2 separate regions of the Homo sapiens genome follow, and region 1 is linked to region 2. The links come from fine-mapping of genetic effects on gene expression. Tissue or cell type: whole blood. Region 2 holds a variant in brackets; the other region holds the start of a gene. Each region is shown on its reference strand, or each on the opposite one. Region 1 holds the start of SPARC (secreted protein acidic and cysteine rich). Region 2 overlaps SLFN14 (schlafen family member 14).

Region 1 (5,374 bases), not on the chromosome of region 2:
CTGAGACATAGAGGTGGTTGGTGATAAATGTAGGTTACACGTCTGTCTCATTGTCATGATCCATATTATGTTTGACTGTGCATATGTTTGACTGTGCACATCCATCCATGTGTGGCTGCAAGTGGCGGTGTGTGTTTGTATACCTGATGGCATGTCTGTGTAAGTTACATACAGCCTGACTTAGCATCTGTCTGTTTCAGCCTGTAATAGGCGAGGGTCAGAATTTTCACATTCATTGAGATATATTCCTGGAACTTGTCTGTAAATCATTGTCATCCAGGAAGAGGTGTGTGAGTGAATGACTTTCTGTGTCTGCTCCTGTAATGAGGCACTTATTTTTAGCTGAGCCAGTGGGTGCCTGTTGATGAAATCGATGTTTATACTCTTCATCCCTATGGGTTTGTACCTGTCCCTGTTTATCTCTGCATATTTATCTACCTACATAAACAACTTCAAAAGCCAAATATTCTACTGTTTACCTCACATCCTCAGCTCTTTCCTTTCCTTCACCATTCTTTCTTATTTATAGCTTGTTTTCAGCAAGGAAAGCTGCTCTCATGAATAGCAAACCCCAGCCACACTGTTGATTGACAAATCTCTACAGATGGATAAGGATTACAGCATGATGGTTATGCAACTCAAGATCCCCTAGCCCATCTTTTCTTGTTTTCTTTTCAACTGGGGGTGCAGTAAGGCGGTGTTAAAAATGCAGGCAAGCTATTCCTTTGAATAAAAGCGGTATCTGGGATTTAGGTTTATAGGACTTCAGAGTTAGAAGGGTGCCTGGGAAATCATCTAGCTTAGAAACTCTATTTAACAGTTTGGGAAACTGCAGCCTCAAGAGAGGAAGTGTCTTTCCCAATGTCAGGCACTGGGAGTTAGAACACACTTTTTTTTTTTTTTTTCACCCTTGGCCAATGCTTTTCCTACATAGAGGGCACAACAGTCTTGGGAAATACACAAGAAGTTCCCCAAATCAAAATGAAGATAAACAATATTATGATTTTAAAATTTTTCCTGTCAGTACTTCTAGTAAAGGAAAGTTCTATACAAACCCCAAGATGATGGAGCTGCCAGGAAAAAAAAAAAAAAAAAAAGCTGAGAATGATTTCACTAGGTCTTTGGATGCCTTTAATCCATCAGTTCTAAAACCCTTTGCATTATGAGGGAATGCCACAATTCGCAAAGTGCTTCCCTGTGCATTATCCCATTTCTTCTACACACTATCTACCCCCTAGAGGTGGCTGCTGTTACTGTTCTTTAACTGTAGAGGGAATGGGGCCCAGAAAGAAGTATTAGTTCAAGGTCAAATGGTACCTTCAGGGCACAGCCAGAGCTAAAACCCAGGTCTTCAAACACCCTTGCAAGGAGATTATCATGGCCCAAGGCTTCCCCGGAATCCTGAGAGATCACAAGGGCAGGGCCTAGAATTTGCTGCAGGCCTTGAATTTGGGGGTGGGGTACGTTCAGACTGATGTTCTTAGAGGGTTTCAAGGGTCCCCTCCAGCCAGCAGGCAGAGACCCTGAAAAAAAGGTTACCGTGGCAACTCGCATTCCTCGGAGAGTGAGTCAGGCAGAGAAGAGCCTTCTGGTGGGTGGGACTTGGAGAAAGTTTCAAAAGTTGATTCCTTCTCCAGGCAACCCCCTTCTTCTCCTCCCTCCCCCTCTTTGCTCTAGGCTATGTCGATGTGGCAGCTGATAGCTGAGAGTTAACTCTCTCTTTCCTCAACCACTCCCTTTTCAGAAGGCTTCATCCTCCAGCAAATACACACATTTGTTACCAGTCCTCACTCCATCCCCACGTCATGCCCTCTAATCCATTTGAGAATATCTTAAAGCTGAAAGCTGTGACCACCCATATTCATCCTCTCTCTCTCTCTCTCTCCCTCTCTCTCTCACACACACACACACACACACACACACACACACACAGTGCATACAATTTTTAGGGGCTTAGAGATGGCTTGAGGCCCATTCAAAGACCACTCCATAGACCCTGGTTAAGAAATCTTCCTTTGAATATTTTAGAGGACACAAAGCACCCCAAAGAGCCTTCAGTTTCAGCCTTCTTTCATTACAGATGGGGCACTAAATCCAGGGGAGACACTTACCTAAGATCACACATAAAATGCATGCCCGAAGCCTGTGTCCTACTTCTGCTTTGCTTCTCACTAAACCACCAGCACTTGGGGCGTATAGAAATTTAACTCTAAAGCATTACTAGAGAAAACATTTTCTCTAATGAAAAAAATGCTGTCCTTTCCTGAGGAAAATGCATGCCTCTCTGTTCCCTTTTGGGCAGACTGGGAATCCTGGAAGACATAACTCATCCCAGTGCCCCCCTTCCCTTGGAGTCCTTGGAGTCCCTTTCCCTAAGGAAGTCCACTTGACAGCCAGTTCACGGAGCCAGTGGCGGCGAAGAAAGGTAGTGGATTTGTCTGAAGAAGAACTGACACCCTGACAGGCTGGACACTAGTCTTGGGTGGATTACGGAAGGGGACCCTGGAATTCTCTCCCTCTTCCCTTCCCCCTTTCCCCCTTCTGAGAATATCTCCCCCAGCACACTCCACCTCCCATTACACCCATGTCTTGGTTGACGATATCTGATGTCTGGGTTTTCAGATCTAGATAAACTAAGGGCTACTGCCTGTGTTTACCATCCCAAGGAACTCAGGACAGGAACAACACCTAACCCAAGACTGAGGTTGTGATGGTGCCATTTCAGGCAGAATGGTGCTGAAATTTGTGTATTGGGGGGACGGAAGGTGGTGTTTGGGAGTGAGGAGAATTAGAGGAAAACAGAAGGCTTCCCAGAGGTGTGGATTAATGGTGAAGCCTCCCCCTTTGCCTTTCAGAGATCAACTGATTGTTCGTGCAAAGTCCCTTTTGGAAAACAGAACCCCTGACCGAGATCTGGAGGACAGACTCCGGTTGCTGGCCAGGTCCCTGTGGCAGCTGTGATGGGATCAGATTCCCAGGAAAGGAGGAGGCTGCCACATTTGCAAAGGGAGCAAAGAGGACAGGCAGGCAGCCTCTGAAACCAGAGACAGACACAGAGAAAAACAGAGAGTGAGAAAATGCTCCCCCGAAGACATAGTGAGATTATTTTCTGTAAACCTGTAAGGGAAGACAAAGTTACACAGTGAGTCCACCTTCTGAAAAGCAACAGGCAGACAGGACCGAGGGCCATGCTCTTAAGGGGAGCCGTGATGGAGCCGGGAGGAGAGGCGCATCCTCAGCAGAGCTTCCCTCCCTTGCACACGAGCTGACGGCGTGAACGGGGGTGTCGGGGTTGGTGCAACTATAGAAGGGAAAGGCTGGGCGGGGGTCACACATACCTCAGTGGCAGGCAGGCAGGCGGCAGGCAGAGCGCGCTCTCCGGGCAGTCTGAAGGACCGCGGGAATGTGGAGGGGTTTAGAGACAGGCAACAGGAAACCACTCAGAGCTCTGGGCTGGGTCTATCTCCCCTCCACCCCGTGGTCCCTCCTCCTCCTGTCTCCTCCTTCCCCCGGCCTCCTCCTTCTCCCATAGCCAAAGCTGTCTCTGTCTTTCATTTCTTTCCTCCTCTTTTTGCGGTGGGCTGTCCTGACCAAACGTCCCAACCCTGCCTGCCTCATCTGTTCCGGGGCTGCTGCCTAAACCGACTCACAGAGTGCCAGGGCTGGACAGGCCTGGAGGGATGACCCAGAACAGCCTCTTTCTTGTTCAGAGGGCAAGTGAGGCCTGGAGACTGCAAGGAATTACCCAATGGCCCCCAGGGGCAGAACCAGGCCCAAGTGTCTTGATCTTCTAACCAGTGAGCTTTACAGGAGTCCTCCCTAATATTAGGCAATGCTGAGAAGGGCCAAGCAATTCAAGGGGGTTGTATTTGCCACAAAGGCAAGGCCAGGACTTACCACTGTACAGACAAGACAAGCTGCTACTAGTGGTATCATCCTTGATGATTTGGAACTGGTCTTAAAAAAAAAAATCCCACTCAAACTCCACTTGTACCACTAATAGACACATAAGGGATTAGACATCTAGCTGGTGGACCTGTGCCACCAGTATTGAACAGATAAGGTAATTGATGATATTGATGATAATCATAGGAGTAACAATAGCCAAAGTTTACTGAGGATTTAATAATCTTCACAGCAACCCCTTATCTTAGGCATTGTAATTATGACCATTTTAATAATAAGGAAACATAGATGCTAAGTAACTTGCCTATGATCACCTGGCAAAAAGTGGTATGAGAGGGCTGATTCTACGTTTCAACTTGGGTCACTCCTGTTATATATGAACTGCTCAGTGCAACAGGTCTTGGTTGAATGTTTATTTTGTGCCTAACACTCTGGGAGGTATGAGAATTAATAAATACCTGGTCCTTGTCCTCAAAAAGTTTTGTGGTTTCCGGTTTTTTTGTTTGTTTGTTTTGTTTTGTTTTGAGACAGAGTCTCACTCACTCTGTCGCCCAGGCTGGAGTGCAGTGGTATGATTTCGGCTCACTGCAACCTCTGCCTCCCGGGTTCAAGCAATTATCGCGCCTCAGCCTCCAGAGTAGCTGGGATTACAGGCGCACATGCCACAACACCCAGCTAATTTATTGTATTTTTAGTAGAAATGGGGTTTCAACATGTTGCCCAGGCTGGTCTCGAACTCCTGAGCTTGGGCAATCCGAATGCCTTGGCTTCCCAAAGTGCTAGGATTACAGGCGTGAGCCACCGCACCCAGCTTAGCTTTGTGGTTTCTTAAATTCTTTTTTAATTTTTTTAGACGAGTTAAGTGCAGAACTGAGAAGGGAAAAAAAGTACAAGGAATTCAATCTGTGACTGTGAACAATCAATCGAGATAACTCACTATTCAAGGAGCTTTGGATCTTGCTGAAAGGTTGTGCCTTACACATACACCCACTTACATGAGTGGTACAGACTCTAAGGCTTATCCCAGGGCTTCAGATTGGTGGATTCCTGAAAGAGGTGGACCTGGAAGCATGGGTTGGGTTTGAATACCATGGAAAGGAAGAAGGCAGAGAACACCCTCATGATACACTTCCATCCGCTGTGGCCCCTGTCTCTCTTGCCATTCTCTCCTCCTACCACTGTCCTCTGTGCCCACGCTGCTCCAGCCATGCCAACTTCCTTCCAGTCCTTCAACTACCCCAAAGCTTCTCCCACCCCAGGATTTTTTTTTTTTTTTTGAGACAGACTCTCACTTTGTTGCCCAGGCTGGAGGGCTGTGGCGCAATCTCAACTCACTGCAACCTCCACCTCCTGGGTTCAAGTGATTCTGCTGCCTCAGCCTCTCAAGAAGCTGGGATTACAGGCATGCACCACCACACCAGGCTAATTTTTGTATTTTTAGTAGAGACAGGGTTTCACCATGTTGGCC
Region 2 (5,374 bases):
CTAAGCTTCCTTTCAATTATAATATTCTGACTCCAGGTTATCTCTAAGAAGAAAAGGCATCTAGTGGGGATCAGCAAGGATTAAAGCACAGTATTTTAAAAATGGTGTTGGCCAGATGTGATGGCTCACACCTGTAATCCCAGCACTTTGGGAGGCCGAGGCAGGCGGATCACGAGGTCAGGAGATCAAGACCATCCTGGCTAACACGGTGAAACCCCGTCTCTACTAAAAACAAAAAAAATTAGCCAGGCATGGTGGCCGGCGCCTGTAGTCCCACCTATTCGGGAGGCTGAGGCAGGAGAATGGGGTGAACCCAGGAGACGGAGCTTGCAGTGAGCCGAGATAGCGCCACTGCACTCCAGCCTGGGTGACAGAGCGAGACTCCGTCTCAAAAAAAAAAAAAAATACAAAAAAATACAAAAATTAGCTGGGCGTGGTGGTGTGCCTGTAATCCCAGCTGCTCGGGAGGCTGAGGTGGGAGAATTGCTTGAACCTGGGAGGCGGAGGCTGCAGTGAGCTGAGATCGTGCCGCTGCACTCCAGCCTAGGCGACAAAGCAAGACCCTGTCTCAAAAAAAAAAAAAAATGTTGTTACAGTTGTTTATGTCCCCATCTAAGGTTAGATGGAATCAAAAGTGGCAGGATCTTTAGGGGAGAGGAGAAGAGAAGTGAACTCAAACAAATTAAGAGAAAGAATGACCCAATAAAATTCTCCAATCACTCAAGTTTTGATGAAATCTGGAACATACTGGCCGTGAAGGCAAGCAGATAGGCGTAGTTCGGCCTATAGTCCTTTATGGATTGATTAGGAATCACCAAGGCTGATTCCAATCAAAACTGAAAGGTAAGTGAGAACACCAGGGGTCCTGCTCCCCCCAGCACCCCCTTGCCCTAGCATCTCCTTTTGCATCATTTTCCCCCACTTGGTGGTGCCCTAAGCCCAGTGGCTTAAGGTTATTAGCTCCTAATGTTACTGAAACAATTCAAATTTGTCAACAATGTTTTGCTTGAAAGAATTAGTGGAGTAGTGGAGTCATTTATTTTTATTTTTTTATTTTTATTTATTTATTTTTTTGAGACGGGGTCTCGCTCTGTTGCTTAGGCTGGAGTGCAGTGGAGTGATCTTGGCTGACTACAACCTCCACCTCCCAGGCTCAAGCAATCCTCCCACCTCAGCCTCCCATGTAGCTGGGACTACAGGCATACACCACCACGCCTGGCTAATTTTTATATTTGGGGGAGAGATAGGGCTTCGCTATTTTGGCCAGGCTGGTCTCAAACTCCTGGGCTTAGGCAATCTGCCCACCTTGGCCTCCCAAAGTGCTAGGACTGCGCCCAGCCTCAGAGTTATTCTTAAACAGTGTTTCTCTAGAATATCATCTCTAAAATGAGGCTATTCCAATTTTGACTGGGATGATCAGCCTGCACAATTTTTTCAACAGGTTTATAGACAATAAAAGGAGACCTTTCCTAACTCATTGCTGATGGCATACTGTAACTTTCCTTTAAAAGTTGCTTAGGCTGGCCAGGAGTGGTGGCTCACACCTGTAATCCCAGCAGTTTGGGAGGTGGAGGTGAGTTGATCACTTGAGGTTAGAAGTTCAAGACCAGCCTGGGCAACATGGCAAAACCCCATCTCTATTAAAAATACAAAAATTAGCCGACATGGTGGTGTGTGCCTGTAATCCCAGCTACTTGGGAGGCTGAAGCACGAGAATCACTTGCACCTGGGAGGTGGAGTTTGCAGTGAGCCGAGGTCACACCACTGCACTCCAGCCTGGGTGACAGAGTCTAAAGAAAAAAAAGTTGTTTAGGCCATAGAATCCAAACATTTCTTGACCTCAGTTTATATTCTGAGTCTTTGGAACTAAAAATGTTAGATAAGGAACACTGTAATGGGAGAACACTTATAAGAAAAATAAATTTCTATTTTTTAACTAACATATGTGATCAAATACCCACAAAAGGCAGAGAAAGGGGTTCCTCCCTGCTGATGGGGACAATGACTTCACTTCCCTTTACCTGACTGAGTATCCAGCATCATGACCACCCACTGCTCAGCTGTCAGCCGTGTGACAGAATTGTCTTTCATGATCCAGGAATCTGGGGCCTCTGCAAACACCACGCAACAGAAGGGCTCCACTTGAATCACACAGACATAACCATCCAGGACATCTTTTTGGTACACATTCAGGATTTTTGTAGTGAAATTTACCTTTGGCTTCTCACAGCAGAAGTGGAATGTAGGCAATTTTTCTATGCAGTTTTCGATTTCTTTTTTTAGTAAGTCAGGATTCACTTTTTCCCACTTACATCCAACCACTTCTTTGCTCTTATCATCCACCCCAATGAGGACATATCCCCCTTGAGTGTTGGCAAATGCAGAAACATAATGAGGCAGCATTTCCTTAATCCGAGGTATGACTTTTTTGGTGGTGAACCTTTTAAATTCAACATGTGTTGACTCAGTAAAGTTGAGTTTCTCCTTATACATGAGTTTGTCCTTTTTAAAAAATTCTGAGGCCAATATCCTCATATCTTCCTCTTCCTGAATGCATCTATTGAGAACCTGCTGAGGATGCAACTTCTTCACCCTTGGTCTTCCTCTTTGGGCTCTAAACCCCTTCTCTCTGAGAAGCTCCAGGGCACTGCTAGCACTCAAGTTGATAGCAGAAGTCACATCTCTCCGATACAAATTGGAGCGCAAGCTGCAAATCCTTAGTGGAAGGCTGAAAACATCTGGGCTCCATGACTTCACAAAAATCAGGAGATTGTGCCCCTGCTGCATGTAGTCAAGGTATTTC[T/C]GTGAACCTGAAGGAAGGAGCTTTTGAAAAGAAGTTTCCAAATCCTGTCCCAGCCCATGGCATTGGTAACTATAGGTTTTATCATCAATCTCTGCTTTGATCACACCACCTCCAGAATTTAACAGTGCACATATAGCCCGGATAATTCTAGAATTCTCAGATCTTTTCAAACAGCTGTTGGTCATCTTCTTCCTGTTTTCTTCTCCAAAAATCACTCTGCCCACATCTACTATTACCTCAGGATACGGCATTTCAGTATCAGTCTTGAGACTCTCCATTTCAGCAGCCCCTCTGTGCTCCAAACAATAAAAGAAAGGAGTTCCTATAATCAGGACAGAAATATTGTTTCTATATTAATAAGAATTCCAAAGATTACAATATTTTCTTCAAAACTATCAATTACTGGAGATATATTTTAATGTTGGAAGTCATCTCTCTCTATATGTATATTTGTTGTTGTTGTTTGTTTTGGGTTTTTTAGTTTTGTTTGTTTGTTTTTGAGATAGAATCTTGCTCTGTTATGCAGGTTGGAGTGCAGTGGCACAATAATAGTTCTCTGCAACCTCAACCTCCCAGTTCAAGTGATTCTCCAACTTCAGTCTCCCTAGTAGATGAGACTACAGACACGTGCCACCAAGCCTGGCTAATTTTTTTTTTCTTTTTTGTTCTTGCTATTTTTTTTTTTTAAGAGATGGAGTCTTGCTACGTTGCAATCCTCCTGCCTGGGCCTCCCTCCCAAAGTGCTGGGATTACAGATGTGAGCCACCGCACCCAACTGGAAATTATCTTTGATACTGCTGTTTTCTAATCACTTTGCCAAATATCCTTAGCCTTGCCAGAATAAGTAGGCATGGATAAAGGTGAATGCCTAATATTTGTCATAATGGAAAAATTAAATTGCTAACATTTTCAGCCATTTTGCATTTCAAATCAGGAAACGCCAACACTGAGCCCAGATATAAAGGGCATGGGTTGGCACAGGAGCCCAGGAAGGTATTGGAGAATATGCAGAAATAGAAGTTGAAGTGAGAAGATGCTCTTATTTATAATTCAAAAGGGGAAGAAAGGAAGGCACTAGAGAACTAAGGAAGTATAATTTTACAGTATATGTACTGTAGAAGATCTTGCTATAAACACAAACATAGGCTGGGTGTGGTAGCTCACATGTGTAATCTCAGCACTTTGGGAGGTGGATGTGAGAGGATTGCTTTCGATCAGGAGTTGAGACCAGCGTGGACAACATAGCAAGACCCCATCTCGACAAAAGATAAAAAAAAAAAAAATGTTAAACATTAGGCAGGTATGGTGGTGCGCACCTGCAGTCCCAGCTACCTAGGAGGCTGAGGTGGGAGGATCTCTTGAGCCCAGGAGTTTGAGGCTGCAGTGAACCATGATCGCACCACTGCACTCCAGCCTGGGCAGCAGAGTGGGAACCTGTCTAAAAAAATAAAAATAAAAGTAAATAAATAAAATTCTATATTTTTATGTATTATTTCATACACTTTGAAAAGCTTTATTTTACTCCTGAAAGAATGTCAGTTGATACCAAATGCAGAAACCTTTTCAACTCTTCACATGTTCTAAATCTCAAAAGTACATTGCCTCATATACAGTGTGATGTGACAGCAGCATTTTCCTTCCCTTCTAATAGTTCTGCCCTGTGCTGTGGAAACCCCTAAGACTTGGAAAAGAACATGAGCTTTTGGGGCATGGTAACTAAACCATTGTCACCCTTCTTTTGCTTCCTAGACCAGAAAACAGCCACCTAAACTGAAATTTGAGCTCTGAAACAAATATTTCAGAAAAGATCTGCTTACCTTTAGTCAATTGCAAAACAAAATATTTGCTAACTCAACCAAAATTCTTCCTCTAGGAGAAGAGAACCCATCTTTCTGTGTGATCTTTGCAAAGCAGGGGCCCTGTGGGCATTGTATATACTCACCAAGAGGAAGAAAGCAGGCATCCGGCAAGACATGTGCACTCCCCTGATATCAATTTGTTCTTGGTTGCCTTCTCACTTCCTTCAGGAAAACCAGAATCAACCTGGGGAATTCTTTTTAGAATGTGAGCCTCTTCTATAGGTACATGTAAATGTAGTATTTTATGGCTCCTTAGGGAAATTTCCCATAACATTCTATTTATATCATAGAATCACAGAAGTGTTGGAAAGGACTTTAAAGATCCTCCAGTCCAACAATCTATAGGATTCTAAAATCTCCTCTATAATATTGCCAACTCCCAACAAGTTGCAAACCTCCAGCAATGAGCAACTCACTACCTATCAAATAGTCCCTCTAGTCCCTTCTAATTTCTGACGTCTGTGTTAGAAATGGTCTCCTTACTTTAAGCTGCAATTTGTCTCCCCATAACTTCCACTGATGGGACCCACAAAACAAATCTAATTGATTTTGAATAGCAAACCCTATGGTCTCGTGACTCGTAAGTCTCATCAATGTTATTTGAATGCTGATAACAATTATGATAAATACAACATTTACTGAGATTCTAGCTCGAGATGAATATCCTTTCCACATTTCCCAGGACTTTTTTTTCTTTTTTTGAGACAGAGTT

Evidence for each region. PIP is the estimated chance that this variant, and not a neighbour inherited with it, causes the effect.
Region 1: SPARC starts here. The variant in region 2 is fine-mapped to the expression of SPARC in whole blood (TOPMed, PIP 0.95).

What each region holds. Positions count from the first base shown.
Region 1 is chr5:151,683,527-151,688,900 of GRCh38, forward strand. It overlaps SPARC (secreted protein acidic and cysteine rich), which reads right to left and starts at 3,389. Exons shown (of 10, transcript NM_003118.4): 1 at 3,339-3,389. CLMAT3 (colorectal liver metastasis associated transcript 3) reads left to right here. Exons shown (of 5, transcript NR_109873.1): 4 at 2,303-2,425; 5 at 2,856-4,384. RefSeq lists enhancers at 842-1,671, 2,500-3,329, 3,330-4,157.
Region 2 is chr17:35,554,982-35,560,355 of GRCh38, forward strand. It overlaps SLFN14 (schlafen family member 14), which reads right to left. Exons shown (of 6, transcript NM_001129820.2): 2 at 4,746-4,824; 3 at 2,022-3,125. The coding sequence starts at 3,081. It overlaps LOC107985033 (a long non-coding RNA gene), which reads left to right. Exons shown (of 2, transcript NR_138032.1): 2 at 1-568. Among named protein-coding and RNA genes, the nearest start is that of SLFN14, 3.2 kb to the right of the region's middle. The variant T/C (reference allele first, on the strand shown) is at 2,804.